Regions from separate parts of the Homo sapiens genome. Here regions 1, 2 and 3 are each linked to region 4. The links come from fine-mapping of genetic effects on gene expression. A gene starts in region 4. Each other region holds a variant in brackets. All regions are shown on one strand. Distances are between the middles of the regions. Region 1 overlaps LOC105374040 (a long non-coding RNA gene). Region 2 has its middle 82 kb from the start of PLCXD2-AS1. Region 3 overlaps PHLDB2 (pleckstrin homology like domain family B member 2). Region 4 holds the start of PHLDB2 (pleckstrin homology like domain family B member 2).

Region 1 (7,418 bases), 21 kb after region 4:
GGAGTCTTAGAAGCCCAGCTGACACCCTGTACAGAGTGATTTCCTGATGTTCAGAGCACTTACAGCCAGAGTAACTGAGAGCCCAACCCAGAGAAAACGCATCTCTTTATTCTATTTGAAGAGGTTATGAGTGAGAAGAAAAGAACAAAAGTTGATCTCAACTGTTAGATAGAGAGACAATGCCCATACTCATTCACCTGTCAAGGTGGTTCTGGAGTTCTACAATCTTGATGCAACCTTCCACCTTTCCTCACATAATAACTGCAGATATACCTAAATTAGTTCCTGGTATGTAGGAGGGGTTCAAGAAGTTTCCTCTTCCTTTTTCATTCCTTTACAGTTCCCCCCTCCTCCTACTCCTACTCAATAACCATGAAAAGCTCACTGTTTAAATTCAAACCCCTTCTCTACTAAAAATACAGCTAAAAATTAGCTGGGTGTGATGGCGGGTGCCTGTAGTCCCAGCTACTCAGGAGGCTGAGGGATGAGAATCGCTTTAACCTGGGAGGCAGAGGTTGCAGTGAGCCAAGATCACGCCATTGCACTCCAGCCTGGGCGACAGAGTGAGACTCCGTCTCAAAAATAAATACACAAAATTAATTAATTAAATAAAATTATAAATTCAAACTTCTAGTCTGGAATGGAGTAACTATAAAAGAAGAGAAAAAATACAAACCTAGCTCCCTAGATTAGCTGCCTAAACTCCTCTGTGGCCTGGTAATCATGACAAAATGGTATTGGGGACTATCTGCCTGCTGATGAAACTATGACATCTGTCCACATATGTCTTTATGCATTATTATAATGTGAGAGGCAGTAGAAGAAAAGTAGTTCTTTTTAATAAAATAGGGTATACCAGTGTTTACGTGAGCTTACATTGTGTCAGGCATTGTACTGAAGTCTGTATAGACATCTTGTCATTTTATTCTCACACAATCTTTTGAGTAGGTTCGTCTAATTGATAGGCAAGAAAATTGAGGGCAGAAGAGGAGGAATAACTTCTCTAAGGTCACCTAGTCAGTAAGAGAGGAGTCAGCAACCTCCCCTTAATTTATGTGGCCCTAAGACAGGTCTATTTCTGTGTTAGATTGTCTCTTTATCTTTTCTGTTATCATCAAGCTCCCTTTCATGGAAACTGTTCTCCTAAAAGTGGTATGGAGGAAAATGACTCTAATGTGTAAACAAGACTACAAGCCATTATCCAATATCAATGCAAAAATGCTAGAGTAAATATTAGAAAACAGAATCCAAACACCACATTAAGAAAATATACCATGACCAGGTAGGATTTATTTCTGGAATGCAAGGATGATTCAATATGAGGAAATCTATTAATTTAAATACTATATTAGTAGATATAAGAAGATTAATTGTATATTATCCTCAGTTGGGGAAAAGGCTTTTTAAAATTCTTTTAATTTTATTTTATTAAACAAATTTTTTTTGGAGACAGGGTCTCACTGTCACCCAGGCTGGAGTGCAGTGGTGCAATCATAGCTCATTGCAGCCTCAACCTCCTGGGCTCAAGCAATTCTTCTGCCTCAGTCTTCCAAGCAGGTAGGACTACAGGCATGTACCACTCTACCTGGCTAATATTTTTATTTTGATTTGTTAGAAATGGGGCCTCACTATTTTGCCTAGGTTGGTCTTAAACTCCTTGTCTCAAGCAATTCTGCTGCCTCAGCCTCCCGAAGTGCTGGGATTACAGGCATGAGCCACCACACTTGGCGCAAAAAAAAAAAAAAAAAAAAAAAAGCGGGGGTGGGGGGCTTTTAAACAAAACTCAATTCCTATTCCTGATAAAAACACTCAAGAAAATAGAAATTGAGGCATATTTTCTACACTTGATCTTAGCCATAAGGCTGAGAAATGATAATGCATATTTTTCTATACCTCGGTCCTAAAGCCGGTGTTATGTTTAGTCAGAAAATACTAGAGGTATTTCCACTGAGATTACAAAAAGGTAAGGATGCTTACTCTCTCTCCATCTATTGAACATTTTTTTCCTAGAGATTATAACCAACACAATTAAAAAAGAAAAAAATCGATTCACAGGAAATGGAAAAGAAGAAATAAAACTATTTACAGTTGATATAGTTTACCCAGAGAATCTGAGAAAATCAATGATAAACTCACAGGCCATAAAATCAACTTTATCTTTTTAAAATGCTAAAGATAATGTTAATTTTAAAATAACTTCAAATGTTAAAAGCTGCAAGAATAGCACAAAGAACATTTTTTTTCTGGAGCTACTTGAGAGTACATTGTGAACAGAGAGCGCATCACTGTTGAATAATGTGTAACTCTTCCAAGAAGGGCATTTTTCAGATAACCAATACACAAGAATCAAAATCAGGACATTGTCATTGACACTAACATTAAATTCACAAACTCTGTTCAAGTTAGTTAATTATCCCAATAATATTCTTTATAGAATGCAATCTAGGAACATGTGTTATATTTAGTTTTTCTGACTCTAATGTTTTTGTTTGTTTGTTTGTTTGTTTCAGTCTGGAAGAGCTCAGTGTGGGTGGCCTCTTGGCTAATTTATCCTCACTTGCACCCTCTCAGTACCAGGGGTAATGGAAGAGACAAAGAGGGTGACCACAATCAAACCCATCCTGCCAGACATATAAAATGAATAATTGCTTGAGTGTGTAGAGAAATCTGGAAGTGATTCTATACTTTTATCTTATTTTTACTATAAAAGTTTTGAAGCAGACTATAAAAATAGAAATATGTTAAATGATGAATATTCATTCTGCTGAATTCTTCCTAGATAGAATGTTCACAAGAAAAAAATTGTCTTATTTCCAAAATGATTCTCCTAAATTAGATTTAGAAGTGTATCTGTTCTTAGGTCAGTATATGCTCAGCACTAACTGCTCTTCAAGAAAATCTCAGAGTCTATTCTTAGATTAAATTTTAAACAGATAATACCGAGAACACAACTATCCTCATTTTGTTAGATATTAATTCTAAGCAAGTTTTAAAAAATATTCTAATCTGACTCTGCCTCAAAGTTCTGTTGGAAATTCAGATTGTCACTAATTCTGTGGGGCTGTAGTTCAAATTTCTTTATATGTAAAGCCTACAACTATTTTTTCCTAGTTATATTTTTATGGTAATCAAATTATTAGCCTTCATCCATGTTGACTGTCTGAAGGGTTCTGAAAGTATAATAGGTATATAAGTAACTTCCATGCTGTGCTGGTTTGATGAATTTCTGGGAAATCAACCCAGATACATTATTGGATTTGCTATCATTCTTGTAGAGCTGCTTTTCTGAGAACAGTTTGGAAAGGGAAAGAGGGATTGTGGGCAGGGTCAAATTCCTCTTCTAGGTTGCCAGAGGCAAGAGCGTACTGAGGAACTTTTTAAACATACAGGTTCCTGGGTAGGAGTGGTGGCAGGTGCCTATAGTCCCAGCCGATCAGGAGATAAAGGCGGGAAGACTGCTTGAGCCCAGGAGTTTGCGACAAGCCTGGGCAACATAGCGAGAACCTGTCTCTAAAACAAACATGCAAACAAATACATAAATAAAAATAAAATTACAGGTACCTTACCCGCACTCTAGACTTTCTGAATCAGAATCTGTGTTGGTAGGTTCAGTAATGTGTGTTTGTTGTTGTTGTTGTTGTTGTTGTTATTTTTGAGACAGAGTCTCCCTCTGTCACCCAGGCTGGAGTGCGGTGGGACGATCTCAGCTTACTGCAACCTCCACCTCCCGGGTTCAAGTGATTCTCATGCTGCAGTTCCCGAGTAGCTGAGATTACAGGCGTGCATCACTATGCCTGGCTAATTTTTGTATTTGTAGTAGAGAAGAGATTTTGCCATGTTGACCAGGCTGGTCTC[A/G]AACTCCTGGCTTCAAGTTATCCTCCTGCCTTGGCCTTCCACAGTCCTGAAATTACAGGTGTGAACCACCGTGCCCGGCCAGGTTCAGTAATATGTATTTGTAAGAAGTTTCCAAAGAAAGTCTTCTGTAGTAAGCTTAATACTAACCTTGATTAGCTTTGAGAAATTGTGTCCCACAGAATGTCAGTTTAACAGAATGATCCCATAAAAAAACTAAGGAGTTTTGGAAATGATGCATTCTATAGCCCCTCCTTAGCAAGCCATGGGACATATTAGTATATGCATTTAGTATAGGGTCTGAGGAAACATCTACTTAATTTTGTGTAATCCAGCATTTCTCAGATTTATTTGAGTACAGCACACACTTTTTTTGACACAACAGAAATTACTATGCACCCCAAAGAGCACGACTTTGAGAGAGATTGATATAGAACACACTCTTCTCCATGCCACCCCCTCTTTATTAATAGATCAACTGTTTGATGTTAGGCAACTCAGGAATGAATGTAACTTCAAACTTTTATAAGGAATATTGTACAAGGTTGCGTAAGAACTTCCTGCCTAGTATTCTCTGGCTCTTCCTCTGTTCATTCCTAAACTTTAGATATTTTTTAAAAACCGATAACAGTTATGGTAACAAATGTGCACTGATTTCTTACTCTATGCAGACTGTGTTCTAAGCACTTTGCAGGCATTATACCCCTTAATACACAGCCCTCTGAGGTAGTTTCATTACTATAACAATGTTATAACAGGATACTGAGGTACAGAGATATTAAACAACTAAACCTAAGAAAACTCACAGTAAGTGGTGAAGCAGGTATTACAGACACTAAATCCAGGTTCTCAGATTCAAAGTCTATAATGTTAACCACTTCATTATTCCACCTGAATAATGTAGATTTGATATGGTTTGGCTCTGTGTCCCACCCAAATCTCATCTCGAATTGTCATCCCCATGTGTCAAGGGAGGGACCTGGTGGGAGATGATTGGATCATCGGGGTGGTCCACTCTTGCTGTTCTCCTGATAGTAAGTTTTCATGAGGTCTGATGGTTTAAAAGTTTTTGGCAGTCCCCCTCACCTCCTGTCACCATGTAAGATGTGCCTTGCTTCCCCTTCACTTTTTGCCACAATTGTAAGGTCCCTGAGGCCTCCTCAGCCATGTGGAACTGTAAGTCAATTAAATCTTTTTCCTTTATAAATTGCCCAGACTCCGGTGGTTCTTTATAGCATGTGAAAATGGACTAATACGAGATTCTTTGGTAATCTTATTCAAAGCCAAAGCTTCCCTTGTTCATGGCTTCCTAAGCCCTGTCCCTAATGCTTGCTCTCTCTTCTGAGCTACAGATCTACATCCCTAACTGCTTGTTAGACACGTCAGTGAGGAGCTAGAACTGGATTCTCAAACTTAACATATCTCTGTAGAATCTCATCTTCCCTTTCCAAACTTACCCTTCCTTTTGTTTTCCCTCTTTCCAGCATTCATGAATTTCTTCATATGACAACTGTGAGCACTTACCATGCATTTGGCACTGTGCTCTGTTGGGGACTTAAAGGTGAACAGGGCTTCTTATTCCTGACTTCCGTTTGGCTCATAACTTCAGTGAACACATGCTTCATCATGGCCACTTTCTTCTCTTTCTGCATTTTGTCCTTTCAGATTAGTCTCCAGCAGCTGTTTTATTCTGTAAGTTGTTCTTAAGTCATATCATTGAAAAAGAATTTGGTTGTTGGATTATCTTTCTCTGAAAGGACATTGGCATGTCTGTAGGTGCTGTGGCAGATTGTATTACAAAAATGGCCCCACTGGCTTACATGCTCATGCCACCATGTGACATTGGCAGCCCTCCATCATGAGGTGGGGTCTACATTTCTCCCCTTGGATCTGGATGGGCCTGTAAATACTAGTGGAAGTGATGCTATGCTATGTGCTTTTCAAGGCTAAGCTCTAAAAGGCAGACAACTTCTTCCTGGCCCTTCGGAGAAGCTAGCCCTTGGAACCTAGGCCCTGAGTCGTGAGGAAGAGGAAAGACTACATGGGGTCACTATGTAAGGTGTTCCTGGTGACAGCTCCTGCTGAGGACCCAGCTGACAGCAAGCACCAACCTCCAGACAAGTGAGTAAGATTTCAGATGATTCCTAGTCCTATCCTTTTCGTGTCCCCAGCTGATGCTGAGTGAAGCAGAGACAAGATGTTCTCTCTGAACCTTAGCTAAATTGCAGAGTTGGAGCAGCATAAATACTGTCATTGTTTTAAGCCGCTGAGTTTTGGGGTGTCTGTTACACTGCAATCGACAGTGGGAACAGGTGCCTACCATTATTTTCACCAGCTATTGACAGAGGCAGAGTCACATGGCATAAAGTATAGCTACCTGGAAGGAGCTGCTGCTGGGGAAGCAGGCACCATTATTAAGTGTCAATTGTGTGCCATCCGTTTCACATTTTTAAATCTCTGTAACACTTAATAAAGTACTTTGCATGTAGTATATGTTGAATAAATATTTGCTAAATTGAGTTGAAATATGGCTTGATAGTTAAGTACATGACCTTAGCAGTCAGATATACTACACAAACCACAGCTCTAGATGCTACAGCTGTGTGATGGGAAGCAAGTTTCTTCCCCAATCCATCAGTTTCTATATTTTTATGGTAATAAAAATATCATTAAACTCTGAAACTGATATAAGGATTAAATATTTAAGGCATGTGCAAGTGCCTAAGAATGAGAGGCTCATGGTAAATCTCTCTCTCATTCTCTCTTAAATTTTGGGACAAAATGAGAAGGATTGTAGCCTGATTGTGAGGGATCTTGAAGCATAGTTAAGGTTCCTTTTTTAGGCATTAGGGACTCATGGAAAATTACAAAGGTGTGATATGCATAAGGCAAGGTTTGAGAAGATTACTATGGCAATAATGTGTAGAAAGGATATATAAAAACCAGTTCCGAAGCTAAAGTCAGTGTCCAAGAATGTTAGGGTCTAAAAAAGACTTAAAAATATAGCCAAGGGGATATCAGGTCAGGAATAAATTGCAGGATGATATTACAAAGGAAATTTCCATAGTCTTTGATTGGCTGGGTTTGAGTCTACCAAGGAAAAAGTTAAAATAAGAAAAGCAAGTCCAAAATTGGTCTCAATAATTTGGCAGCATTTATTAAAGGATCCCCTATGATTCAACAATTTCACTTCTAAAAATTTGTCTTATAAAGAAATGAGGGCAAGAGTACTTAAAGTTATATGTCAGAGATATTTACTGCATCCTTGTTTGTGATAACACAGTGTTGAGAAACTATAATACCATCAGTAAGGTCATGGTTAAGTAGACTACTATATGTTCATACAATCAAATGATATGAAAATGAGGTAAATCTAGATAAACTGACCTGAATGATAAGTTGTAAGTGAAAAGAGCAAGTTGTAAAGCTATATGTGTGTATATATATACACACATATATATAAAAATCAGATGACTATATATATAGTCATCTGATATATATATTATATATAATGCCATTATATATATAATAGAATTATATATATTATGTATATAATAGAATTATAT
Region 2 (7,418 bases), 100 kb after region 4:
GAGGGCTTTGAGTCTGCAATGTTTATGAATCTGCTGAGAGTGCTGGGAAATGAGGCTTCTTTTTTGCACATGAAGTCATATTTTAACCCAAACCAAAAGAAAAAAAAGAGAAAGATTATTTGAGAGTCTGTGGGGATCAGAGCTGGGTATTGTGTTACAGAAATTTTCCATTTCAGACACAAACTACGTACAGCAGTATGTGAGCCAAAAAAGGCCAAGAGAGACTCCAGGAGGGCTTGAAGAAATAATACCTCCTCCTTTAATCCTGACGAGTGTGGCCAGGTTCTTGGGAGGGCTGGGTGGAAGGTCTGGATCAGATCACACTTAGAGGCCTGTGATTAGAATGATGATAATTGTGGCATCACAAGGCATAACTTCAGAGCGCTCCCTAGGATGCCCTTGGGCAAGGTACTTAACCCTTCTGTGCCTTAGTTTCCAATATCTGAAAATGGGATAAACACCTCAAAATTTATTGACAGTGTCAAAACATTACACATATTGGCTATATAATAATAATATGGTAATGCTAGTTATATAATTAAATAATACATATAGTTAGCATTTATTGAGGCCTTACTATACATGAGCTATTGTGTTAAAGCTTCCTAAACATTATCTTCTTTAAACTTCACAACAGTCCTCTGAGATCAATTGTGTTATCCTTCCAGTACTGCAGTTTAGAAAAGTAAGTGACTGACTTAAGTTTATCACCTTAGGTAGTAGACTTGGATCTCAAATCTAAGTCTAGTCTGGCACCAAAACCCATGCAATGAACTAATAGCTAAGACGCTGGTCTGGTTCTCAGCTGAATGTGGCGGATGGGATTGGGGGGGCATCCCTTTTTGGATAAAATGTGTTCCTCTGACCCCTCATCCTCTCTTTTAGCAGTGCCCCTTTTAGGTGAACATACAAGCACCTATTTTAAGGAAATGTCAGGCTGGGGGTAATTACTCTGTAATTCTTCTTATGTATACACATTAAATAAATTTGTATGCTTTTTCTGCTATTAAAAAAAAATGTTGGGCTGGTTTTCCAGGTAAATAAACCAGTCATGGCCTCTGTGGCTCAATTCTGAAACCGGTATTGCCTAAAGCAGTGGGTCTTATGGTGTGGTATCCCCGACCAGCATCACCTGGGAACTTGTTAGAGCTAAAAATTCTCTTGCCCCACCCACATGTACTGAATCAGAAATTCTGGGTGTGTAGATCAGCAATCCTGTTTTAACAAGCCCTTGAAGTGATCTGAATGCAGCTGAAGTTTGAGAACGACTGGCCTCTGGGGTAGATAAAGCAGAGAGTTAAATCAGGAATAGAGATCTAACTATGATTCTTAACAGCTGCTAGTGACTCATTCTCCCTAGTCATTCTCTTCTGAGTTTCTGCCTTTTTAGGATGAAGGATTTGTTCACGTCCCATCTTGTGTGATAAATTTCATCAACAGTGTCAGTTCCTTTCTGAATCAATGCCGTGTATAAGGAGACTTTGAGCTTTATACACTCCCATGTGTACCCATACCCACTTCTGCTTTTGGAACCACTTGCTCATTTCCCATTGTGGATGATTAGCTTCAAATTATCTTCATGACAGAAGCAAAAAAATTGAATAACACTGTAGTTCTAGGTGGAATAGGAGGATCACAAAGCTGGGATTAGTATTCAAATGTGTTTAGTTTTTTTTTTCTTTTTTTTTTTTTTTGAGATGGAGTCTCACTCTGTCGCTAGGCTGGGGTGCAGTGGTGCCACCTTAGCTCACTGCAACCTCCACCTCCGGGGTTCAGGTGATTCTCCTTCCTCAGCCTCCCTAGTAGCTGGGACTACAAGCACGCACCACCACGCGCAGATAATTTTTGTATTTTTAGTAGAGACGGGGTTTCACCATGTTGGCCAGGATGGTCTCAATCACCTGACCTCGTGATCCACCCGCCTCGGCCTCCCATAGTGCTGGGATTACAGGCGTGAGCCACCACACCTGGCCGACTTAGTTCTAAAGGTTCCAAGCAGTGCTATGAATGAACTAAGTAGCATCCTGGCCCCTCTCCCAAACTTCTCACCTACAATTTATCACAAAAGATAAAACAACTAAAACTGAAAATGGAGAAAATTATTGCTTCAGTTTTTTAATCTAAGCTCTGATTCAAATTTTGCTTCTCAGCCTCACCAGTCCCACGTGGCTCTCAGGAAAAAAAAAACAAACAAAAAACTGTATACACATCGCAGAAGCAAGAAAACAGAACACGTTTTCTGCCTTCTAGTTCACTCCCCAGAAGCCAGAGTAAGATGAGTCCCGCAGTCCAACACAAACCTTTTAATAACCATGTAAACATAAATTTCAATAAAAAGAACTCCAACTTTGCTAGTTTGTTACAAAAGCCTAGTTTTTTATCTGAAATGCTGCTTTTCCTAATTGAAAAATAGTAGAAAATTTTATTTGACTTTGACAGAAAATGGAAGCTATGGTTATTGATGAGACCTGTATTTAGTATCTTTGGAGTAGGACAATTTTTTTTATCTCAACAAAGATGCATTGAAACTAAGTTTTGGTTTGAGGGATCTTTGGATTCCATCTTACAGTCCACGTAAGGTAAAATAGGAATTTTAAAAATGTAAACATGGTTTCTGCTGATGGACAATGTTTGTGAATTTCAAAAGAGTTTTGCTCAGCACTTTATATTGCTCTCTGGTCTTAACTTTAATTCATTGTGGACATACTGAAAGAATATCAGTCAGGAATATGGGTTAGCAACATGCACATGAAGGCAAGAAGTATTATGTGCATTAAACTCTGACCTAGTGGAAGTGAAGATTGCCTAGCAATGTCTCCCCTGAAATGCTTTTGCATAAGTATTGTGGCTACAGCCTGAATCCAATACAGAGGCATGAAGACACAGAAACTTCACATGGCTTTCTCTGTTTGACAGATACATTTAGATCTCTGCCCTTAAAGCCTCTTGTCCTACAAACTGCATATTGTTGCTATTATGAACCAACAATATTCCCAACGAACTCTTGATTGTCACCCAATTATAGCCTATTGATTAAGAATAAAAAATTTGGAAAGAGAGAAACTCAAATCCAAAATCTGACGTCATCTCTTGTAAGCTGTGTGCCCTTAGACAAATTACTTAATCTGAGATTTGTTTGCTCACTTATAAATTGGGGATAAAAATTTCCACCTTATAGGGTTGCATGATGACTGATTTGGATAATGTCCAATTACCTGGCCTTTAGTAGGTGTTATATTATTTTGCTGTCTTGAAACCATTTGGTGCAAAGAGTAACTTTACATGCTAAACATATATTCCTCACTGTGCATGCATACACACACACGGGATATACATACATACATATGTGTGTGTGTATATATACATGTAAATATATATAAAATCTCA[A/G]TGTTGTGGTCTAAATGTTGGTGTCTCCTCAAAATTCATAAATTGAAACCTAATCACCAATGTGACAGCATTAGGAGAAGGAGCCTTTGGGTAAGGCTGAAACTCTCATGAATAGGATTGGTACCCTTACAAAAGAAACCCCAGAGAGCTAGTTTGTCCTTCCACCATGTGAGGACACAGTGAGAAGGCACCATCTACGAACCAGAAAGTGGATCCCCACTTGATACCAAATCTGCTGGTGTCTTAATTGTGGCCTTTCCAGCCTCCAGAATGGTGAGAAATAAGTTTCTGTTGTTCATAAGCTACCTAGTTTATGGTATTTTGTTACAACAGCCTGAGTGGACTAAGACAATCATTGAAAAAAAAAAAAGATATATCACTAGGATATTTATGCACATATATAATTACATTTTTACTCTAATCAGCTCTGAAGAGCAGTCATTTTTCTCCTTTCTTCCTTAAAATATCACAGTAAACTCTACTGACTGACTCCTAGTTTCTGGGATGAAGCTTATAGGCTAAAGATGGCCTGGGCCCCATATTGATAGGACCCATTAGCAAAACATAGCTTGTTGTCTCTGTCTGTGCCGCATCTAGTAGCTTATAAAACCATCTTCATGAGTTTATCGTGGTTGATGACTCACCCCTCCCATGGCTGCAATCCTATGAAACATGTCAAGCCATGGGTTCTTCAAGCTATATTAACAGCAAAATAGATGCACTTGAAATTTTTTTGTGGTCGAGCCAAGATGGCCGAATAGGAACAGCTCCAGTCTGCAGCTCCCAGCGTGAGCCACACAGAAGATGGGTGATTTCTGCATTTCCATCTGAGGTACCGGGTTCATCTCACTAGGGAGTGCCAGACAGTGGGCGCAGGTCAGTGGGTGCGCGCACACTGCACCAGCTGAAGCAGGGCGAGGCATTGCCTCACTCGGGAAGTGCAAGGGACCAGGCAGTTCCCTTTCCTAGTCAAAGAAAGGGGTGACAGATGGCACCTGGAAAATCGGGTCACTCCCACCCTAATACTGCGCTTTTCCGACGAGCTTAAAAAACAGCGCACCAGGAGATTATATCCCGCACATGGCTCGGAGGGTCCTATGCCCACAGAGTCTTGCTGATTGCTAGCACAGCAGTCTGAGATCAAACTGCAAGGTGGCAGCGAGGCTGGGGGAGGGGCACCCACCATTGCCCAGGGTTGCTTAGGTAAACAAAGCAGGCGGGAAGCTCGAACTGGGTGGAGCCCACCACAGCTCAAGGAGGCCTGCCTGCCTCTATAGGCTCCACCTCTAGGGGCAGGGCACAGACAAACAAAAAGACAGCAGTAACCTCTGCAGAGTTAAATGTCCCTGTCTGACAGCTTTGAAGAGAGCAGTGGTTCTCCCAGCACGCAGCTGGAGATCTGAGAACGGGCAGACTGCCTCCTCAAGTGGGTCCCTGGCCCCTGACCCCTGAGCAGCCTAACTGGGAGGCACCCCCCAGTAGGGGCAGACTGACACCTCACACGGCCGGGTACTCCTCTGAGACAAAACTTCCAGAGGAACGATCAGACAGCAGCATTCGCGGTTCACGAAAATTCACTCTTCTGCAGCCACCGCTGCAGATACCGAGGCAAACAGTGTCTGGAGTGGACTTCTAGCAAACTCCAACAGACCTGCAGCTGAGGTCTGTTGTTAGACCTGTTGTCAGCTGTTAACCTGTCTGTTAGAAGGAAAACTAACAAACAGAAAGGACATCCACACCAAAAACCCATCTGTACATCACCAACATCGAAGACAAAAAGTAGATAAAACCACAAAGATGGGGAAAAAACAGAGCAGAAAAACTGGAAACTCTAAAAAGCAGAGTGCCTCTCCTCCTCCAGAGGAACGCAGCTCCTCACCAGCAACGGAACAAAGCTGGATGGAGAATGACTTTGACCAGTTGAGAGAAGAAGGCTTCAGACGATCAAACTACTCCGAGCTACAGGAGGAAATTCAAACCAAAGGCGAAGAAGTTGAAAACTTTGAAAAAAATTTAGACAAATGTGTAACTAGAATAACCAATACAGAGAAGTGCTTAAAGGAGCTGATGGAGCTGAAAGCTCCATTCATGAAATGAATGAAATGAAGCGAGAAGGGAAGTTTAGAGAAAAAAGAATAAAAAGAAACGAACAAAGCCTCCCAGAAATATGAGACTATGTGAAAAGACCAAATCTACATCTGATTGGTGTACCTGAAAGTGACAGGGAGAATGGAACCAAGTTGGAAAACACTCTGCAGGATATTATACAGGAGAACTTCCCCAGTCTAGCAAGGCAGGCCAACATTCAGATTAAGGAAATACAGAGAACTCCACAAAGATACTCCTCGAGAAGAGCAACTCCAAGACACTTAATTGTCAGATTCACCAAAGTTGAAATGAAGGAAAAAATGTTAAGGGCAGCCAGAGAGAAAGGTCAGGTTACCCACAAAGGGAAGCCCATCAGACTAACAGTGGATCTCTAGCCAGAAACTCTACAAGCCAGAAGAGAGTGGGGGCCAATATTCAACATTCTTAAAGAAAAGAATTTTCAACCCAGAATTTCATATCCAGCCAAACTAAGCTTCATAAGTGAAGGAGAAATAAAATACTTTACAGACAAGCAAATGCTGAGAGATTTTGTCACCACCAGGCCTGCCCTAAAAGAGCTCCTGAAGGAAGCACTAAACATGGAAAGGAACAACAGGTACCAGCCACTGCAAAATCATGCCAAATTGTAAAGACCATCGAGGCTAGGAAGAAACTGCATCCACTAACGAGCAAAATAACCAGCTAACATCATAATGACAGGATCAAATTCACACATAACAATATTAACTTTAAATGTAAATGGACTAAATGCTCCAATTAAAAGACACAGACTGGCAAATTGGATAAAGAGTCAAGACCCATCAGTGTGCTGTATGCAGTAAATCCATCTCACGTGCAGAGACACACATAGGCTCAAAATAAAAGGATGGAGGAAGATCTACCAAGCAAATGGAAAACAAAAAAAGGCAGGGGTTGCAATCCTAGTCTCTGATAAAAGACTTTAAACCAACAAAGATCAAAAGAGACAAGGCCATTACATAATGGTAAAGGGATCAATTCAACGAGAAGAGCTAACTATCCTAAATATATATGCACCCAATACAGGAGCACCCAGATTCATAAAGCAAGTCCTGAGTGACCTACAAAGAGACTTAGACTCCCACACAATAATAATGGGAGACTTTAACACCCCACTGTCAACATTAGACAGATCAACGAGACAGAAAGTTAACAAGGATACCCAGGAATTGAACTCAGCTCTGCACCAAGCGGACCTAATAGACATCTACTGAACTCTCCACCCCAAATCAACAGAATATACATTTTTTTCAGCACCACACCACACCTATTCCAAAATTGACCACATAGTTGGAAGTAAAAAGCTCTCCTCAGCAAATGTAAAAGAACAGAAATTATAACAAACTGTCTCTCAGACCACAGCGCAATCAAACTAGAACTCAGGATTAAGAAACTCACTCAAAACCACTCAACTACATGGAAACTGAACAACCTGCTCCTGAATGACTAGTGGGTACATAATGAAATGAAGGCAGAAATAAAAATGTTCTTTGAAACCAATGAGAACAAAGACACAACATACCAGAATCTCTGGGACACATTCAAAGCAGTGTGTAGAGGGAAATTTATAGCACTAAATGCCCACAAGAGAAAGCAGGAAAGATCCAAAATTGACACCCTAACATCACAATTAAAAGAACTAGAAAAGCAAGAGCAAACACATTCAAAAGCTAGCAGAAGGCAAGAAATAACTAAAATCAGAGCGGAACTGAAGGAAATAGAGACACAAAAAACCCTTCAAACAATTAATGAATCCAGGAGCTGGTTTTTTGAAAGGATCAACAAAATTGATAGACCACTAGCAAGACTAATAAAGAAGAAAAGAGAGAAGAATCAAATAGACGCAATAAAAAATGATAAAGGGGATATCACCACCGATCCCACAGAAATACAAACTACCATCA
Region 3 (7,418 bases), 52 kb before region 4:
TCAAAGTGTCACCTGGATATATAGACTCTTTTTTTAATATGGTCTTTTAGAAGTACGATTTGGAAATATTGAGTAAAGTGAAAAATACACAAACTCTTTGACCCAGCAATTCCACTTTTAGTAAGTGATCCCACAGACACATTTGCAGAATTGTGCAAATATATATATGCTACAATATTTGCGCATATGGATTTTATTAGCAAAAAAAAAAAAACCCTGAAAATAAACGGTAGTTGCAAACAAAAGAAGAGCAATTGGTCATTAAAAAGAATGAGGTAGAGCTATGTATACTAATATGCAAAGATACCCAAGGCATTTAGTGAGGGAAAAAAAGTACAGAACACTATGTGTGTGTCTGTCTGTCTATGCCTATAACAGATAGCCATATATACACAGAAAATATTAGGAAGGCAGGTAAGACAATTTTAGCACCAGTTTTACACCTGCTTATCACTCAGGTGTACAACCTGAAAGGGTGCAGGGAGAAGAGAAATGTGCTTTCTTTCTACTCTTCTGTGCTGCTACAATTTTTACAGTGCAAATTTGTTACTTTACAGTAAACACCCTAATTTGCTGCACCTCGCTCAGCTAATGACCTCTTAAATTGAAATTTCACTGAAAACATCCTGGATAATTAGCATGATAAAATCATCAGTTTTCATGCCAAAGCATATGCACAGCCCTAGACCTTAAATCCTAGTATCTTTGCTGGGCCAACATTACCTTTGGTAGGATACTTAGATAAGAGGACTCGCTGGAAGCTTTCGGAAAGGTGGAGGATGGTGGTGGAGGAGTCCGGGTGAGGTCACTGAGTAGTTCATCATTCCTGGTGCTCCTGGGGGTAAAGAAGCTGGCACTGCTCTGACTGAGACTCCCACAGCTTGCCAAGTCTGCATCAGGGAGGGAGTCTTTCCGGTGGCACCTGTATCTTGTGTCAGGGCTCATGAGGGCTTCCTCAAACACAGACTCCTCATCAGAGAGCTGCAGCTTCTCAAGCTCCTTGTTGATTTTCTGCACATCTTCCACGGTGGTCCCAGTAGATAAGCGACTGTCAGGCTTTGTGTATTCAGCACAGAGACTGAGGATGGTCTCCAGACGCTGTCTCTCCTGGAACACAGGGAGGAGGGGGAGGTCAGTGGGTTTGTGAGAATGAATACTACTCCAAATAAAAAGACTGAAGAGGCTGGGACAACTGGTGCTTGCATTCCATACATAAACCCACAAACACTTGGCTGGTGATGATTTTCATAATCTTTGACGGATGCATTTAAAGATCCAGGTGAAATGGGGTTTAACAATGCCCAACTTTCCTCCCAAACTCAATTCTGGCTTCTACTCTCTCCCCTTTATTGGTATATCACAGGGCTGGCCCTAGCACACATCAGCACTCAGTAAGCCTTTTCATAACTTATAAATTCTCCAAGGTTTCTGAAGGGTGGGGTTAGGGAGAAAGACAAGGTCTTACTCTGTCCCAAAGGCTGGAGTGCAGTGGCACAATCATAGCTCACTTTATTTAACTCCTGGGGTCCAGTGATCCTCCTGCCTCAGCCTCCCAAAAGTTGCTGAGATTACAGGCACATGCCATTGCACCAAATTCATTTTTTTTAAACCTCCATTTCCTATCTATCCTCCTTCCCAGGCTCTACTTATCTACCTTCAACAATATCTAGCTTTTTCATCACTACTGACTTAATACTTGTGCTTAAAACTAATTCTCTAACTTCCTAAATATTATCCTACTGTTAGACTATGTGCTAGACACACAAAGAGAAAAACAGCTACTTACTGAATCTTTTAATTTAAAAGACCTATGTCTTCAATTTTTTTTTCTTGAAAATTTTGAAAATTTTCTAAACTTTTTAATGCCTGGTCACCATATAAAGGTCTTTCTCTACTAATTTCTTATATAATTAAAATTATAAAAGAGATAGAATGTTGCACTAAAATGAAGAACATTTCACATGAAGTCCAGATACACACCGATGTAACTCAAATTCATAGGTCATTAAATCTTTGATTAATTTAGCTAGAAAATAAAATTTATTTGTTAAAAATCAATACATAGGCCATTGATATCTATAAGAGTACTGCAATCTTACCAGACTCCCCATGCAACAGGCAGATATCTATGATTTTGAACTTTAAGTAGGTTAATTATACAGTTTGTGAGCAACAGGATATAATTTACAAAATGCTTCTCTGCTTCTCATAAACCTAGACAGCATTGCTTGAGGTAGGAAATCTCAACATCTTTACCTTTCATGTTAATTCCAAGGCCAAAGTGAAAAAAGAACTAAAAACAAAAACCATCTATTGTGATCACATTTACCACACTGAGAAGAGGCTTCACACGCTCTCCATAGAAAAACATTTTCCAAACTGCTTATCAGCAATAAAGCAGAAAAATATTAAGCATCACTGGACTGCTGTTCTCATTTCAATTGCAGCTAATTTGTAAAGACAAACTTTACAAGACAATTAGCTCTTTATTAGTTGATGCTATTAACAAGTAGAAAAGTCAAATAGGAACAGACCAACATAACTCCTTAGGTTCCATTAAATACATTACTCAAATGACAAGACAGATATTTAAGGTGTATCTGACTTACATTTGCCCTCTAAAGTAATCCCCCAACAAAAAAAACAAAAGAGCAATAGCTTGATCAAAAGGACTAATAAACTAGTTCCTACAAGCTCGCACCTCCCTTTCACTGCCTGAACTTCTGGACTCCAGCTGCAGCTCCGTCCTCATGGCCTCTTCCCACGGCAGGCACTCATAGCTACACACTCTCATCTTGGGCTCTTCTGCACCCTATCCATCCAGGAGCCCTGGTACTTATTTATCTCTTCAGTTTCCACCAGCTGCCAAGCCCTGCCCACCTCAGCTTTATAGGGAGGAAGCAGGGGGGACATAGCCTTCATTGCCTTATTTTAAACTTCTCCAACAATCTGGAAAAGTCTACATGGGCATATGCAAAAACAACCTCCAAGAGCATATGTAAGGAGAGGGAGAGGGACAAGATGTTACATTTTACTTCTCAATAGCATCTATATTAGAGGCGAATCTCTGAAGGAAAGTTCTTTTTCTGCCACTTAGGTAATTAAGTTGAAGCATCTAAACTCAAGTCTTTCCTAATCTTTGTAGTATAACATGTATACATTAGCCTTGGCATAAATATTTGGGATTATCTGAAAGTTGTCCATTTCCAATTACCTGGGCTCTAAGGTGTGGTGTTCAAAAGCATGAAAGATATTTCTGTTCAGCCTGGAATACAGAGAAAAATTCCTCCCACATGGCCTTCCCAAAATAGTTTCTTTTTCTGCAGTGGTATTGCTTAATTCCAAAGGGAATAAATGATCCCAGCCTTAAGATGAATGCTATTTCAGACAGTGAAACGCAGTATTCAAAGGCTTGTGAACAGGAAGTTTGGTCTACTGGTATGTGTTTCTCTCTATTCTTATCACCCCATTCACAGCCAATCTGTTCAAGTTTGAATCACTGACACATGCAGCACTGCTGCCCACGAGTTTAAAAGAAAACCAGGTTGCACTGAGACACACTGGCCCTATAAAAGCTGCACTAAAGAAAAATAAACTGATGTCCAAGGTGCATCAGAAGAAAGTCTGTAAGGCATTTCAGAAAGCACTACAGGAAGCCTTTTAAGGAAAACTCTGAACAGAAATTACTGT[C/T]ATAAGATAATTCTCCCTTCAGCCTTCTGCACTCTGGAGTCTTCTTCCTTCCCATTCATCATGCCAATAGCCTGCAACCTGCATGACCCAAATCCAGAATGACCATTCCAGACCAGAACCTCTCAAGAATCAAAGAGGGCACTGTTAATAATTATGCTGGAACCTCAAATGCAAACTGGGGTTGGTCCTGGCAAACTGTGATGTCTGTCCCCCTACTTAAAACCAAACTTTCTTTGAAGCTTCACCTAACAACCTGCTATTTAATAAGTCAAGAGGCTGGCTGCCCTCTGAGATTTCCAAATCCTACCCACCTTTCCAAACTAGGAATCTAGTGTTCATTCTCTTGAAAAGTCCAAGTACAGAGCCTACATACCTTAATGCTCCAAAATATCAGTGCTAAGAATTTAGAAAGTAGGTCATCTTGAATAAAATTATTTTACATATATTTTTTATTTTTTTCGCCATTCCCATTTCTCCTTTTCTTCATCTTGATCTCCCACATATATCAAAGGAAGTGTTGAAGGAGACACAAGATTTTAGAAAGTATACGTAAAGAAAATTGTGTGCAATTTTTCACTTAGAGGTTAAAGGGGAAAAAATGGTGATGGGCTAGGGGTATGTTTTTTGACCTCTGAGCTTTTTTCCATCTTCAGAGGACTGTGTCTGACATTGTTCCCACTGCAGATTCACAGCCCTCAGGAGAGGGTACATCCATCTCCTAAACCCATCCAAGGGCCCTTGTAACTAACACCAACCAGTGTAGGTCACAGGACGGTACACATACTGCATAAATACATACATTATGCAGAAAACCAACTGCTGACACTTAAGCACAGGTGTAATCTTTGCTAAAAACCTTTTGTTATAACCAGTATATTGGGTCATGTATTACTTAAAACAAAAGGTCAACCTTTAATTTTTAGATATAATTTAGTTGAAATGGGATTTTTTTTTTTTTTAGGAGGACCTATTATAACTGGTGTGACTTGACTTCTCTCTTCTATTAGCCCCAGGACTTCAATGTCTCCATAATCTTCAGTTCAACAAAGGTCTACTAACTTACTTATTGTCTAGTAACGTGCTGGGGATCCATAAATGAAAAAAGATGGCAAGATGAAAATTTTTTTCTTTTTTTCCTGAGACAAAGTCTGTCAATGTCACCCAGGCTGGAGCACAGTGGTGCACTCATAGCTCACTGCAAGCCTCGATCTCCTGGGCTCAAGGGATCCTCCCACCTCAGCCTCCAGAGTAGCGGGGACTCCAGGCATGCAAACTTGCCCAGTTAATTTTTTAATTTTTTGGAAGAAAGATGGCATCTTGCTATGTTGCACAGGCTGGTCTCAAGCTCCTGGACTCAAGCAATCTTCCTCTCACCTTGGCCTCTCACATGAGACACTGCACATAGCAAAGCATAGCATTTCTACCCTCAAACCTTTAATAGGAGGCACAAATAGGTGATCACTTATAAAAGCAGTGATAACAGAAGTTTATAGACCACCTATGAGTTCACAGATGGGTAAACAGTACACAAAAATTACAGAAAAACAAATTTGAGTCCTCAAGGATAAATATGAGTCTGTCTGCTCTACTGGGACAGTGGGGTGGGCAGGGCATTTCCATAAAAGCACCACAGAAGCAAAGGCATAGAGCTGTGGCATATCATGGTATGCTCAGAGATCAGCAACTAGTATGTGGCTAGAGAGATGGGGTCTTTTGGGGGAAGAGGAATGAGGTACCTGCACAAAAATGGGTCACATTTCTTCCTCTTAGGGATTACAACAGCCCTAAAGTAAGTTTTGGAAACCACAAGAGTCAGGAACCCTGGTCTGAGTGAGTGGTAGAATGAGAAAAGCTGGTGCTGACAGCAGGTATGCAGACTTCCCAGGATTCCATGTACAAATCCTGATGTTTCAATTAGGTAATGACAGAAAGGAGGGAAAACAGAAGCAATGGCTCAAAGTCTGTTATACGGGTCTGTCTGTTTTAGAGATAAATCCTTGAGGGTAGTAACTGGGCTATTACAATCAGTTCACCTCTTTCTGGACACAGGGTAAGATGGCTCCTCTCTTCCTCACCCTCAAACTGGATATGGCCCTCAGACTTGTACCGGCCAATGAAGTGTGAAAAGCAAGGTGTATCACTTCTGCATGAACAACAGCCAGGGCATAATTCATCACATGCCTTGCTCTAACATGGCAGAGTGGCTCTCCAGATTGGCTGCAGGTGTTGGCTCCATCAGGAAACGTGGAGCAGAGGCCTCTTTTAACCCACACTAGTCCTGGAGTGTAAGAAAGAAACAGACCTGTATTTAAGACTTGGAGTTTTTTTTAAATTTTACTAATGGACTTCTACATTATGACTAATAAACCATGTGCAATTTCAGGCAGAACACTTTTCCAAAACTTAGAGATGAGGGACTCAGGGATCCTACTAAAGAAAGCTCAGTTACTTATTGGGTAATAAATAATTTGTCTTCGCCCAAAGAGAGGTCTGACCTTTGCCATTGGCTTCTGGGAGATTATCTATGTCATACTCAGCTGCAGTGTCTTTGTTTAGGGTAGAGTGGGCCACATGTGATAATCTTAGGGTATAAGCTGGCCACTCCAGAAAGACCAATTATGTGATTTAGTGTGGGAGCCTTAAGTCATGGGTTATCAGCCAAGCTGGAGACTGAAATTAACCATGTGGGAAACTGATCAATCAGTAATGCTTATGTGATGAAGTCTCAATAAAAACTATGGCAAAACCCCATCTCTACAAAAAATGCAAAAATTACCTGGGCGTGGTGGCTCATGCCTGTATTCTCAGCTACTTGGAAGGCTAAGGCTGGAGGATCACTTGAGTCCAGGAGGCGGAGGTTGCAATGAGCTGATATAGCACCACTGCACTCCAGCCTGAGAGACAGAGGGAGACCCTGTCTCAAAAAAACAAAACAGAAAAAAATAGCTGACCACGGTGGCTCACACCTGTAATCCCCAAACTTTGGAAGGTTGAGGCGTGTGGATCACCAGAGGTCAGGAGTTTTAGACCAGCCTAATATGGTTAAACCCTGTATCTACTAAAAATACAAAAATCAGCTGGGAGCGGTGGTGGGCACCTGTAGTCCCAGCTACTTGGGAGGGTGAGAAAGGAGAATTGCTTGAACCCAGGAGGCAAAGGTTGCAGTGAGCCCAGTCGTGCTACTACACTCCAACTTGGGCAACAAAGCAAGACTCTCTCTCAAAAAACAAACAAACAAACAAACAAACAAAAAACCTGTGGGTACTACAGCTTGGGTAAGCCTCCCTGTCATGTGCACACTATCACCTACCAATGCTTAATGCTGGTAGAGTAACACTTTCTGACCTACAGGAAAAGGACATGGAAGTGTTGCCTTTGGAACTCTTTGGACTCTGCCCCGTGTGTGTCTTTCTTTGGCTAATCTTTATCTGTATCCTTTCCCTATAGTGAATCGTAACTGTGCTTATCATAGCTGTCAATGGGTTCTGTGAGTCTTTCTAGTGAATTATCGAATCTGAGGGTGGTCTAGGAAACCCCAGAACTTGCGGTTGGAGTCAGATGTGGGGAAAATCTTGTGTGGAGACACTGCTCTCCAGACTTTTCACTGGCTTTCACATTTACACAAACATTGCCTTAGTATTGTTTTTATCAGTTTAGGACAAATGATCTCATTTGTATATAAAAGTGAGGGGTTTTTATCATTTGGTTTTACAAATTATCTTTATGGA
Region 4 (7,418 bases):
CGTGCATGGCAGGGTGCTTAACCGCATCCCAGGCCTCTACCCACTATATGGCAGTAGCACTCTCCTCCTGTCAGTTGCTACAACCAAAAATACGTTGCCAGTATCCTCTGGGGGCCAAAACCCCTCTCCCAGTGAAAACCACAGCTCTAATGTATGTCAGGACTTTAAGATAAAGCACATCACTTAGGTGTTTTTGTTTCAAAAGAGTGACATTTACACAATCAACAATTGGTACACCAAGACTTTACAGATAGATTCATAAGGCACAGGTACTCCACCTAGAAAATGTACAAAGCCACTGTCACTCTAAGCCATCCACAGCACCATAGCACTGCCTCCCTGCTAAGGGTTGAAAATCAGGATATAAAGCCATAACGTTAACTACTCCTTTAAAAATATTTAAAAGGAGACCGGGTGTGGTGGCTCATGCCTGTAATCCCAGTACTTTGGGAGGCCAAGGCAGGTGGATCACCTGAGGTTAAGAGTTTGAGACCAGCCTGACCAACATGGCAAAATCCTGTCACTACTAAAAATAGAAAAATTAGCCAGGTGTGGTGGCAGGCGCCTGTAATCCCAGCTACTCGGGAGGCTGAGGCAGGAAAATGGCTTGAACCAAGGAGGCAGAAGTTGTAGTGAGCCGAGGTAACTTCTCCAATGAACTCGAGAGTCAACCCTTGCTTATAGATCTCAAAATGGAGCTTTGAAGAAAATAGGGAAAACCAGAGATTGGTTAATCACTTTGGCTTATTTTTTCCTCTCTTGCATACACAACAAACACACATGGTAAATAAAACGTTTCTGGAAAGGTTGCTAACGAGTTTCAGCTTGGTCACAGTTATTGAACGGAGGAGTAAGCAAGCTCTCAGTCCAATTTCCCAAGTATCTTTTCCTCCCCTTTTCAAACAGGGATCCAGGCGACACTCGTGGCAGACGATCTCAACACCAAAAGAACAGCAGCTGCCAGCTGCATAAAACAGATTGAGGCCTGCAAATTGACTGAAATGATGACTACTCTTAACCAGACATCTCATTTTTCCACTTCTGACAGGCTGAGATCTGCAAACCTCTGGGTCTCAAGAGATGAAGGCTACATTAGCCAACTAAGACGACAAACTCAACTCTTCCTTGTCATTAAATAATTTGCCAGTTATAAATGGTTTGGTAACTTTACAGAATTTAAGTACATGTAATGTTTAAATTTCCCCATTAAATGTAAGAGGCAAAGAAAATCCTTTTAAATAACTAAGCAGAGGATATGAAAGGGGAGCCAAGAATAGACAGAACTGTTACTTTTCAAAGAACCTTCGCTCTTTATTCAAACAAATATTTACACAATTGAAGGCAACGGCAAGAGAGATATAGCCATTCTGTTAAAATAGTGGGCAACTCTAACGGTTTATTTATCCCAAATCCGACAGTTCTGTTGCTAACCTACCAGGAACCAAGAATTCAAGTGTTCACAGGGCAAAAGTTTAACCTTCTGAAACTGTGGACCTCATTTAGATCTCTCCCAGCCGAATTCAAACGTTAGAATCCCAGAGACATATCTCGAACGCCCAAATTAAACCAAACTAGGAAGCTTAAAATTACACGTCCAATACTTGAAAACCTACATCTGTAACTTACACGTTCATATTACGAAGGGAAATGTGGCTGACAAATATTTACACTAAAAAGACTCCACATTTTTATGCCTCGTCTAGTTACACTCCCAGCTGTGCCTGGCTATGACTAGTTGTGCATTCTAGAGCTCTTTAGAGCTACTTCAGAGTTGCAGGATAAAGATTTCTAGGGAAGAGGGCAGGGCCAGGCGCCCGGAGGATTTCCAGCCACGGGTAGTTTACCGAGAGAAAAAGCTGCGGGCGTCGCTCCCTCTTTTACATAAGAAAGGTAAGTGAGGAACCGCGAAGCAGTTTGACTTCTCAAGCTCTTTCAAACAGGAAACCCCAACCCTGGGAGGGACAGCCTGTCAGCCTTTTAATTTCCTGGTGGTGGCGGGAGTTAGCCAGGTCCTCGGCGCTTTAATAAGTGATGACTGCTAGGGCTAAGTTATTAAGCGAACCAGCAAACGATTCAGCTGCGCCTCCGCCGCGCAGGGAGCTGGAGAAACAGAGGGTTAAAATACTCCCCAAGCCTTCCAGCTGCTATCTCTAGGGGTGCCGAGACGGCCACACTGTAAACTTTCAGTGGGGGGTCAAAGGCCAAATCGAAATCAGCCGCTTTTGGCGGTTAAAGCTCGTAGGTTCACTCTTGAAAGAAAGTGGAACTAGAAGCGCAGCTAGCCAAATATTTGCGGGGAGGGAGTCTTCTCTGAATCCCGCGCCCTACACCATCCAGCAGCGGACCTTCTCTTTCTCAGGGAGCTATCCCAAGGATCCCCATCCCTCTCTCCATGTGCATTCCAGAGTTGCTGGAAAAAGTTGCCCCCAGTTCCCCCACATTCTGCCTGTTTTCTACAATCACTCTGGAAGCATCTTCCCTACCAGACACTCCCTCCCCGGGATCCCCTCAACCGGAGATCTACCCAGCCCCCCGAGAGTCATGCACAACGGGGTTCGCCACCCCCACCCACCCAGCTGCGCAGCCTGGGCACTGCCGACCCCAGCCCGGGCTTTTGTCCCTACAGCCTGTAAAGAAGCAAAGAAACTCTGTGTCCCCGGAGCCCACTCACCGTCTCATCTTTCCTCCAAACCGCCGCTCTACGCTGGCGCCGCCGCCCTAGCGCCTAGCCTTTGCCCCCGCCCACCCTGTCTCCCTCCGTGAGCCCGCCGGCCCCTCCTGACTCGCGGTGAGCAGTCAGCGCGCCCCTCCTCGGCCCGGGCAGCCACTGCCTCCTCTCCGCCCCCAACCCTCCGCAGCGCAACCGGCGGCAACCAACTCGGCCGCGGGGGAGGCAGCGTCCCCGGGACGCACTCCTGGCACACGGAGTCGGCACCACCCCCTCCTCCCGGGCGACCACCGCCGCCTCCTCACCTGGCCATTGGTGCAGCCCGTTCCCGGCGGCGAGAGAAGGCAGGCGCGCTCCTTGCGCCACGCCACACCGTCGGGCCCCCGTCGGGTCCCCCTCGGGCCGCAATGGTGGGCTCCGCGCGGCTGGGTCCGGCACTCTTGACCCCCTTTGTAACCACCGCGGCGGGCACCCAGGGAGTTCGAGCAACGAAGTTGGTGACCTGCCCCGCTCCCAGGCAGTTTGCTGTTGGGGCTTTCACGGCTGCTGGAAGGGCATGGCTGTTTGCCCCATCACTGGGCGCCAGCTTCTCAAAGCTACGTTCGCAGCAACGCAGTAGGGACTTTCGTGGCAGGCTTTTTTTAAGAGCTGAAAGAAGGGCGGGAGGGTTTACGTCCTAGGGTGATGATTTCCTCACCAGACAGCGAAGTATCTATTGGGAAACTCCAGGTGACCGCACCTCCTTCCGACAGTTCGCCCCGGGGCAAGTTTACCAGCTGCGTCAGAAAGCAGGTTTGCAAAATCCTTGGAGAACGGCCTGAGCTAAGGACTGGGGTCAGGAGGGTTTTAAACTCATTCTGATTTTCTTGCAATCATATCTCTTGAAAGTTTTTATATTTTCCCCAATATTTTTCTGAGTTGCTATATCCAATGAAAACAATGCTGATGTAGAGGTCCACCAGCCAATGCTTTATTGGAAGTCAACGAATGAGACCGAGGGTGGCCCATAATCAATCTCGGCACGCGGGAATGTGAACCTCTTCCAAGGTCTGGGCGAGTCCCTAGAGTTACGCAGATGAAGGACATTGGCCCTCGAGAATCTCACACCAGCAAAGAAGAGCACAACGAAGCGCAAACTACTTATGATCATTGTGGCTTTGGGCAAGTTGTTGTAGCTCCCAGCAACAATTTCTTCACCTGGAGTGCAGCAATAAATGATACTGGTGCTGCAGGGCAGCTAATAAGCTTCTGAATAATATATGCAAAGTACTTGGCACCATGAGCAGAACTCAGTATACCGTCACTGAAGAAATAGCTTATTTAATGATTACACTTTTCATATGTGCAAGTAAAAGTTTGACTTTTAGGGAGAGCCTCACCTACGGAATGTCTTTTTTAAATTTCTTTTTTAATTATACTTTAAGTTCTGGGATACATGTGCAGAACGTGCAGGTTTGTTACACAGGTATACATGTGCCATGGTGGTTTGCAGCACCCATCAACCCTTCATCTAGGTTTTAAGCTCCGCATGCATTAGTTATTTGTCCTAATGCTCTCCCTCCCCTTGTCCCCCACCCCCCAACAGGCCTCAGGGTGTGATGTTCCCCTCCCTGGGTCCATATGTTCTCATTGTTCAACTCCCACTTATGATGAGAACATGCAGTGTTTGGTTTTCTGTTCCTGTGTTAGTTTGCTGAGAATGATGGTTTCCAGCATCATCCACGTCCCTGCAAAGGACATGAATTCATTCTTTTTTATGGCTGCATGGTATTCCATGGTGTATATGTGCCACATTTTCTTCATCCAGTCTATCATTGATGGGCACTTGGGTTGGTTCCAAGTCTTTGTTATTGTGAACAGTGCTGCAATAAACATACGTTTGTATGTGTCTTTATAGTAGAATGATTTATAATTCTTTGGGTATATACCCAGTAATGGGATTGCTGGGTCAAATGGTATTTCTAGTTCTAGATCCCTGAGGAATCGCCACACTGTCTTCCACAATGGTTGAACTAACTTATACTCCCACCAACAGTGTAAAAGCGTTCCCATTTCTCCACATTCTCTGCAGCGTCTGTTATTTCCTGACTTTTTAATGATTGCCATTCTAACTGGCGTGAGATGGTATCTCGTTGTGGTTTTGATTTGCATTTCTGTAATGACTAGTGATGATGAGCTTTTTTTCATATGTTTGTTAGGAATGCCGGGTTTTTTAGAGGAATTCTTTTCCCTGTCCTGAGTTTTTGCCCTGCAGAAGCATACATACACTGATCAATCCAACAGTTAAACAGTTAAGTGCTCCAGCAATGTTCTTTTCTCACCCACGTCATCTCTTTCCTCCTCTTTTTTGGATCATCCCCATAAACATACAATCATTTTATTTCCATTACCTTGGAATTTTTTTTTCTTTTCTTTTCTTTTTTTTTTTTTTGAGACAGGGCCTCACTTTGTCACCCAGGTTGGAGTGCAATGGCACAGTCATAGCTCACTGCAGCCTTAACCTCCTGGGCTCAAGTGATCCTCCCACTTCAGCCTCCTGAATAGCTGGGACCACAGGTGCAGACCACCATGCCCAGCTAATATTGAATTTTTTGCAGAGATGGGGTTTCACCACATTGCCCAGACTGTTCTTGAACTCCTGGGCTCAAGCGATCTGTCTGCCTCCGCCACCCTAAGTGTTGGGATGACAGGTGTGAGCCACTGTGCCCAGCCTCCTACTTCCCCTTTATCACTCACTTAGCCCCTGCCACAGTGGCCTCGTAGACTAGATTCCTAGGTAAATCCGTTCTATCTCAGGGCCTTTGTTCTAATTGCCCTCTCTGCCTATAATTCCCTCCTCCCAAGTATCTGCATGGTTCACTCCCTCACTTCCTTCAAGACCCTGTTCAATGTCACCGTGTTGCTCAGGCCTGCTCTGACCACTCTACTTAAAAGTTTAAAATGTGTTTTCCATACTACTTAAATTTACTTTTTGACAAAGTCACCACATTCTACTATATTGTAAAATGTACTTTTTAAATTATGTTTATTGTCTGTCTCTCCTCACTAGAATGTAAGGCAGGCAGGCAGAGAGTTTTGCCTGTTCTCTCCAGTGCTATATCCCTAGTGTGCCTACAAGGATACCGGACATGTAAATGGTGCTCAAGAATAAATGATGGCTTTGACCCAAAGCACTGTGTTGCAAACATTTCCTTGCCTCGAGCAATGCCAGAAATACACTTGACTACACAGACATCTTAGAGACAACCTTTCTCCCTTCAGGTCTAAGGAGAATGTGCACCAACACAGCACATTTAGAATGGCCATAATTAGATTGCCAATATTTATGTCTAAGAAAAAAATAGCTAAATTTATTGAGAGCAATAATTACTATTGTATACGTATCCGGTATTCTTCCAAATATAGGACAATATTAGTTGATGCGGTGAGAGTTACTGTTTGTTACTACTCCCATTTTATAAGTAAAAAAGGAATCACAGAGAAGTCAGTTGTCACTCAGGTAATAAGTTGGTAGAGGCAGAATTTGAGCACTTGTTCTTGAGTTCATTGTCTTTAATGCTACCTTCTACCTCTTTTCTAAGTATGAATGTTACTAGGGGATATTTCTGTATAATGAATAATTCCAAATTACTAGACAAAAAGTAATCCTCACTGGCCTCCCTTCACTGCCTTGTTTTATCTGCTAGCATCTCTATCTCTTAGGATAGCCAAGCTCCTAGAAGGCAAAGGGAGTCATTTTATTCATATTTGTATGAATCATACTCCAAGACTTATATATGGAAGGGACTCAAAAAGTAGTCATTGAATGTGACTTTTTCAAGTGACTAAACCCAGCAAAGTTTCCCATTCCTGATGAGTTAGAGTGGTTTTCAATAGCTTTCATAAGGCCATAGCAGCCTGAAGATAGACGAGACCACCCTGAAGGTGCAAGTCTTAAATTAGATAAATTCAGTCCAGGCTCAATGGCTCATGCCTGTAATCCCAACACCTTGGGAGCCGAGGTAGCAGGATTGCTTGAGATTAGAAGTTCCAGAGCAGCCTGGCCAACATGGCAAAACCCGTCTCTACTAAAAATACAAAAATATTAGCCGGGCATGGTGGTGCACCATCTGTAGTCCCAGCTACTCAGGAGGCTGAGGTGGGAGAATCACCTGAGAATTCGAGGCTGGGTGATCCATGATCGCACCATTGCACTCCAGCCTGGGTGGCAGAGTGAGACCTTGTCGCCAAAAAAAAAAAAAAAAAAAAAAAAGACAAATGCAGACCTCAACATCTATAGAAAGCACTCAATAAAGTGCAACTGTTATTGTTATTATTATATTACCAGACTTTCTTTTAGTAATGGTGATGGAAAGAAAGAAGAAAGAAAGGAAAGAAAAGAAGGAAGGAAGCAAAGAAGGGAGGAAGGAAGGAAGGAAAAAGAGGGAAGCGCGGGAGGGGGAGAGAGAGAAAGAAAGAAAGGAAGGAAGGAAGGAAGAAAGAGAGAGTCTTTCTACCTTTTCTATTTCCTGGGTTCTTTATAATAAAGTTTTCTGTTTAATCACAGACCAGAGTCCTGCCTGCGCTCTGCCATTCCTTATCACTAGAGATATTGTGTTGTAAACTAAACAGCAGACCTTTCTTGTTTGCCTCTCCAGGATCTGTAGTGGTTACAGTCCCTGATCTTACTTTCCTGTGTCCTTCACCCTCTCAGGTGGGGAACCTTAAAGTGTTGCACAGTGTTGAGGCTAAAGCAACTCTATCTTGGATG

The links. PIP is the estimated chance that this variant, and not a neighbour inherited with it, causes the effect.
Region 1: its variant is the best candidate, but not a certain one, in a credible set for the expression of PHLDB2 in whole blood (TOPMed, PIP 0.77).
Region 2: its variant is the best candidate, but not a certain one, in a credible set for the expression of PHLDB2 in tibial artery (GTEx, PIP 0.57).
Region 3: its variant is the best candidate, but not a certain one, in a credible set for the expression of PHLDB2 in whole blood (TOPMed, PIP 0.58).

The regions. Positions count from the first base shown.
Region 1 is chr3:111,834,278-111,841,695 of GRCh38, reverse strand. It overlaps LOC105374040 (a long non-coding RNA gene), which reads left to right. Exons shown (of 4, transcript XR_924333.4): 2 at 5,798-5,973. It also overlaps a transcript of PHLDB2 not described here. Among named protein-coding and RNA genes, the nearest start is that of PHLDB2, 21 kb to the left of the region's middle. The variant A/G (reference allele first, on the strand shown) is at 3,856.
Region 2 is chr3:111,755,460-111,762,877 of GRCh38, reverse strand. It overlaps a transcript of PHLDB2 not described here. Among named protein-coding and RNA genes, the nearest start is that of PLCXD2-AS1, 82 kb to the right of the region's middle. The variant A/G (reference allele first, on the strand shown) is at 3,388.
Region 3 is chr3:111,907,008-111,914,425 of GRCh38, reverse strand. PHLDB2 (pleckstrin homology like domain family B member 2) reads right to left here. Exons shown (of 18, transcript NM_001134438.2): 3 at 724-1,107. Among named protein-coding and RNA genes, the nearest start is that of PHLDB2, 51 kb to the right of the region's middle. The variant C/T (reference allele first, on the strand shown) is at 3,691.
Region 4 is chr3:111,855,132-111,862,549 of GRCh38, reverse strand. PHLDB2 (pleckstrin homology like domain family B member 2) reads right to left here and starts at 3,285. Exons shown (of 18, transcript NM_001134438.2): 1 at 2,974-3,285. LOC105374040 (a long non-coding RNA gene) reads left to right here and starts at 1,734. Exons shown (of 4, transcript XR_924333.4): 1 at 1,734-1,890. RefSeq lists enhancers at 1,852-1,961, 2,292-2,876, 2,877-3,463 and a silencer at 2,768-2,827.